Regions from separate parts of the Homo sapiens genome. Here region 1 is linked to region 2. Evidence: fine-mapped QTL for protein levels in blood plasma. A gene starts in region 2. The other region holds a variant in brackets. All regions are shown on one strand. Distances are from middle to middle. Region 1 holds the start of LOC124909422 (a long non-coding RNA gene). Region 2 holds the start of ITGB5 (integrin subunit beta 5).

Evidence for each region. PIP is the chance, under the fine-mapping model, that this variant and not a neighbour inherited with it causes the effect. The UK Biobank Pharma Proteomics Project read protein levels with antibody pairs (Olink). The fine-mapping took linkage between variants from a reference panel, not from the people measured, so its PIPs are less certain.
Region 1: its variant is fine-mapped to the plasma level of the ITGB5 protein (UK Biobank, PIP above 0.99). The variant lies in the coding sequence of ITGB5. If it changes the protein, the assay may bind it differently, which can mimic a change of level.

The regions. Positions count from the first base shown.
Region 1 is chr3:124,794,748-124,797,642 of GRCh38, forward strand. ITGB5 (integrin subunit beta 5) reads right to left here. Exons shown (of 15, transcript NM_002213.5): 10 at 1,641-2,070. It overlaps LOC124909422 (a long non-coding RNA gene), which reads right to left and starts at 1,628. Exons shown (of 2, transcript XR_007096043.1): 1 at 1-1,628. The variant C/T (reference allele first, on the strand shown) is at 1,760.
Region 2 is chr3:124,885,709-124,888,603 of GRCh38, forward strand. ITGB5 (integrin subunit beta 5) reads right to left here and starts at 1,657. Exons shown (of 15, transcript NM_002213.5): 1 at 1,223-1,657. The coding sequence starts at 1,292. RefSeq lists enhancers at 1-381, 2,150-2,895 and silencers at 1,046-1,135, 1,596-2,035.

The DNA of each region.
Region 1 (2,895 bases), 91 kb before region 2:
CTCCAGCCTAGGCAACAGAGCGAGACTTCATCTCAAAAAAAAAAAGAAACAAGAAAGAAAGAGAGAGAGAGAGGAAGGGAGAAGGGAGGAGAAGGAGGAGGAGAAGGAGAAGAAGAAGAAGAAAATAAAAAAAGGTGAATGTATTGTCAGGGTGCATCCATGTAAGCAGAATGTCCAAATCACAGGAAACGCATGCTTCACTGAACCCTGGACCAAGCCCTCATCATCCAGCATGACAAGTAACGCACTTGATTATGTGAAGCATGCTTCACAAATGATAGCACCCTCGGACAAGGAAGAGACTTGGGGTGTCTAGCCTAGATCAGAAGAGAGAACAGAGAAACATAAAGCAGCTTTTAGATGTTTGACAGGTTGTCACGTGGAAGGGGGACTCTAGAATGTTAACCATTGGGAGGAAGTTATTGAGAAACAAGTTTCTCTTCAGTATAAAGAGGAATTCTGGGCCGGGCACAGTGGCTCACGTCTATAATCCCAGTACTTTGGGAGGCTGTGGATGGATCACTTGAGATCACGAGTTCAAGACCAGCCTGGCCAACATGGTGAAACCCCGTCTCTACTAAAAATACAAAAATTAGCCGAGTGTGGTGGCGGGCGCCTATAATCCCAGCTACTCGGGAGTCTGAGGCAGGAGAATTGCTTGAACCTGGGAGGCAGAGGTTGCAGTGAGTCGAGATCCTGCCATTGCACTCCAGCCTGGGCAACAGAGTGAGACTCCATCTCAGAAAAAAAAAAAAGAGGAATTCTGGCAGGAAAAATAAGAGCCCCCAGAGATGTCCACATCCTAATCCCTGGAACCTGTGACTGTGTGGCCTTACGTGGTGAAAGGGACTGTGCAGATGTGAGTAAGCTGAGGACCTGGGGATGGGGAGACTTTCCAGGGTTCGACTGAGGGTCCCTTGTAACCACAAGGGTCTGTAGGAGAGGGAGAAGGATTTGACAACAGAAGCAGAGGTCAGAGTCAGAGAGATCTGAGGATGTTACTCTGCTGGTTTTGAAAATGGAAGAAGGAGCTGCAAGCCAAAGAATACAGGTGGCCTCTAGGAACTGGAAAAGGCCGGGACACAGATTCTCCCCTGGAGCTTCTAGGAGGTATGCAGCCCTGCTGGCACCTTGATTCTAGCCAAATAAGATCCATTTCAGACTTCTGGCCTCCAGAACTGTAATGGATTAAATGTGTATTATTTTAAGCCAACAGGTTTGTGGTGAGTTATGGGAGCAGCAATAAGATATGAGTTCATTGGCTAAGGGACAGATGGCCACTGCCAGCCCCAGTGAGTTCCCCGTCCCAGGAGGCAATCAAGAAGAGGCTGAACATCTCTACCTGTCAGGAATGCTGTGCAGGCCAGTCCTGCATGAATTGGGAAGTAAGGTGGATGACCCACGCAGGCCCCTCGAATTCTGAGAGTCCACAATTTATGGCAATACCTTCTGCTTTCGTATTCTGCACACAGATCCCCACCTCCTGCCTACGGGTAGCAAGGCTTGCCCACTGTCTTCTCCAAGGAGAGCCATGGTAGTGACACTTTCTACCACCACTGAGTAAAAGGCAGGCTTTGGGAGGGTGTCCTAACGGCATCTTGGCCTGGCTCAGAGCTAAAGTGCTTGCTGGGGACACTTACCTGAGCAGAGGACTCCCTTGTTCCTGGCACAGGAGAAGTTGTCGCACTCACAGAAAGGCCCATAGATCTTGCCAAACTCGCTCTCGAAGCAGGAGCACTGGTTGCAGCTGCAGTCCCCA[C/T]GCCCGCTGCACAGTGGCTTGCCCTCTGCCTCCCGGCACAGGTTCTGGTACACGCTCTGGTTCTCCCCATCCTGGCACTCGCACCTGGTGCCCAGGTAGCCGGGGCTGCACTCACACAGGCCGCAGACATAGGTCCCGCTCCCGTTGCACCTGGCGCTGTTGGGTTCCAGCCCCACGCTGCAGCCGCACGTGCAGTTGTAGGTGACCCCCACCTCCAGGCTGTCCCGGAATCCCACCGGCCGCAGGGCAAACACATGCTCCGTGTGTCTGCTGGGACAGCTTCGGGCCTCCAATGATACTTCAAAAGATGCCTGGGCAGAAGGAAGAGAAGGGATATCATGGCTGCGGCAAGCCAGGGTCTCCCATTCACCCAGGGGCAGGGCCCTTGATGAAGAGCAGCTGCGAACTCCAGCCCTCTCCACGCACTCAGGTAGAACCACCAAGATGGCCGGAGTAGGAAGAGACCTCAGAACCAGCAAGCTCCCATGCTTCATGGAGAAGAGAATGCACAGGTGAGCTCACATTTGACAGGTGAATTCTTTAACATTCATTATCTCTTTGCATCCCCATGACCCTGAGGAAATGGGCCCCTGCGGAAAGCTATAGGGCTTCCTTGAGTTCACACAGTTCTTATTCTCCCTTTCTTTTCTCTTCTGTCCTATCCTCTTCCCAGCCCCGCTGCAGATGCCTCTTCTCTGCTCACTTAAAAAGTCATTTGGTGGAAAAACATTTCCTGGGCGCTGCCTCTGTGCCAGGCACAATGGCACTCTCACAGGGTGCCGGGTGAAGGGCACCCACCTGGCCCGCCATAGAGAGGGCTCTGTGCCTGCTGGCAAAGGGCTCAGCTGACTCCAGAGCTTGCTCTCCAGACACCCCCGAGTCCCCCGTGCCCCAATTCCTCCTCTGTGAGTGCTTGTCATAGCTGCATCTTTCACAATCCCCCCATGCCCCTGAGGTCTTAAAGAAGAGTCTCCAACTGATGAAATGCACCATGCACATGGACAGACCTTTTCTTTTTAAACAGAATATGTAAGGAAGTGTTTCTCACTCAGGAGCTTCTCACAGATTGCCTTGAAAACAGGCTCAAGGTGGGCCTGGATGGGTGGCAGATGGTGCGGGAGGGATGCCTGTCAGCT
Region 2 (2,895 bases):
GTGTTTGGAATCCACTCATCTACTCTCCAAGCTCTGGAGTGATTATTTTCCCATTTAAAACAAAAACCAAAAACCTTGCTACAGTATTAAGTTTGAATTAGGGTCTGAACGAAGTTATTGTTTGCTCAGACCCCTCCTCCGCTCTTAAACCTAAACCTCCACTGCCTTCATGTAAATGAGACACCGTGGGGGAACAGTCCTCCCTTCGGGCAGCCAGGCAACCACTTGGCTCACAAGAGCAATCAAGTATCTCCGGCTTGAAAGTTAATAGAGCACTATTATTTCCTAAAAGAAAGGAGAAAATCCGCATCCCAAACAAGTGCATCCTTCCTCGAGGGCCTCCAAACTACCACGTCCAATCATCTCCCAACTCTGAAAAGTTAGAGCAGGTAACCGAGGGATCCTTGCAACGCTGCCAGCCCACCGCAGCGTCGGGCTAAGGCAATCTCCACAGCCCCTGTCCTCTGCTCCAGAATCCTCCACAGTTAGGGGAGTGTGAGGCTCCGAGCGTGTGCAAATCGCGGGATAAAGTCGGGCAGAAGGAATTTAATAGGGAAGTCCCAGGTGGGGCTGTGGTTTGGGACGCGGGTGCCCCCTCGGGTTTGCGGTGGCCTAGGCGAGGAGGAAGCAGGCGGGGGGCGGGGAGGGTGGGGGCTGCATCTTCAAAGGCAGGCGGCTAGCCTAGGCGCAGCGAACTCCAGGATTCGCTGTGGGCCCTGTGCACCCGCTGTTCCAGGAGGCGAGCCCTCCGGAGTGGAGGTGGCCCCGGGCTTTGGCTGGGGTTTCGAGACTCCCTTGCTTCTCCGGGAACAGGGCACCGACGGCATCCCCCCAGCAGCCCGCCCGCTCCCGGCCGGCCACAAGGACCGCTTTGTGCCCGCCAACGGAGAGCCCGGGCCCCAAGGCAGGGCTGGCGGCGGTCCTCCCCGTGCCCTGGGCGCGGGCCCTGGCGGGCTAGGTCAGCAGGCCGGCCAGCCTGTTTACACAGGAAGGGAAGCTCCTCCTCAGCCCGGGAGGGAACAGGAGACTCACGACAGCCCGGCGGGGCTGCGCGCGGGGAGCGCCCCGCGGGGCTGTCCCCCAGCGACTGGCCCACCAGGGAGTGCCCCGAAGGCGCCCTCCGCCCTCAGGCACCGCCTGCGCTCCCCGCCCCTCCGAGACGCCCGCCCGCGGCTGAGTGTGCGACAAAGTTTCTCTGGGCGCCGTGGGCGGCGCGGCTTACCTGCGAGCCGGGGCAGGAGCGCGCAGAGCCCCAGGAGGCAGGCGTACAGCGGCGCCGGGGCCCGCGGCATGGTGGGGCGCCTCCCTCAGCGGCGGCGCGGTCGCTGCACTCCGCGGGGGCCGGCGGCCGGGGCTGGGGCCGGAGCGCGGGGGCCGAGGGCCGGGGGCCGCAGCCGCATGCCCCGCGCGCAGCTCCGGCTCACGGCGCCCGCGCTGGCCCGCGCCCCGCCGCCACCATCCGTCCCGCAGCACTCACGGCCGAGTCCCGGGACCGCGGCTGCCCTGGCTGGCCGGCCGGGACTCCTAGTGTGTCGCCGCTCGGGACGGCCCCAGCGGGCTGCTCCGGGTAGGGGAGGGGCTGGCTCCGCTCGGCGGCCGCGACTTGGGCTCCGAGACGCGCCCAGCGCCGAGACTCCCCCGCGCGCCGGCACACTCTGCCCCTGGCCTCCGCCCCTTCCCTTCCTCCCTCCGGCCCGCCAGGCTCCACTTTCCTCCTCTCCTTTCTCCTCCCCTTCTCTCCCCTGCCAGGCCCTCGCCCGGCCGCCACACGGTCAGCTTACGGTGAGGCGGGGCGGGGCGAGCTCCGGGCCGGGCCAGCTCCGCCCTGTGCGGGGACCGGCCCGGGACGCGGAGGCCCTACGGGCCCAGGTGGAAGTCGCTTGCGACTCACTTGGGGCGTGGGGGGCTCGAAACCACTGAGTAGAGCCCGCTCCCGTTGCTTAGCCGCCCGTCGCCACGGGAAAGGGGCGGGGCACGCTGTATTAGGCGAGCCGAGATTACTTGGGCCAAAGGCGGTTGCTAGACTGCGAGAGGGAGAGCAGGTACGGGGGTCGTGCCGGTACCGCCTCATCCTCCCAAAGCCTCACTGCCGGCGGCCTGAGATGGGACGTAGACGCCCGCGCGTGGAACCGCAAAGCGACTTCTGGATGAGCAAGGGAGGGCGTGGTGGGGCGTGGAGGCACAAGTAAAACCTACATTTCTTTTTCTTTTCTTTTTTTTTTTTTTTTGAGACAGCGTCTTGCTCTCACTCAGGCTGGAGTGCACTGGCCCAGTCTTGGCTCACTGCAGCCTGGACCTCCTGGGCTCAAAGGTTCCTCCACCTTAGCCTCCTGAGTAACTGGGACTACAGGCGCGCGCCACCACACCCGGACAATTTTTACATGTTTTGTAGAGATGGGGGTCTCGCTGTGTTGCTCAGGTTAGTCTTGAACTCCTGGGCTCAAGCATTCCTCCTGTGTCTGCCTCCTAAAGTGCTGAGATTACAGGTGCGAGCCACCGTGCCCGGCCCACTTTTCACTTTTTAACTTTTGCACCTTTCAAGGATTTGAGACTGGCCAATATGCCGCTATATTTCGTTGTCCTTACTGATAATCTGTCAGTTTCCATGATCAAACTGATAGACTCAAAAACATATGCTCAGGCTTTCATCTTATCATTTACATATAAGCTGGATCTGAACTAGCCAATAAAGAGTGGGGTGGGGTCTTCCTCAGATGGTGCAGGAAAGGATGCCTTGGGCTTGGATTCGCTACAAGTGCGTTTAGAGTGGAGTGGTTGATAGGCAAGAGAAGAGGCGACATTCAGGTAGGGGAAAATAACGATAGAATACCTACCAAGTACAGAGAGCACACTGCCAGCCAGGCACTGTTCTAAGTCCTTTACCCATATTAACTC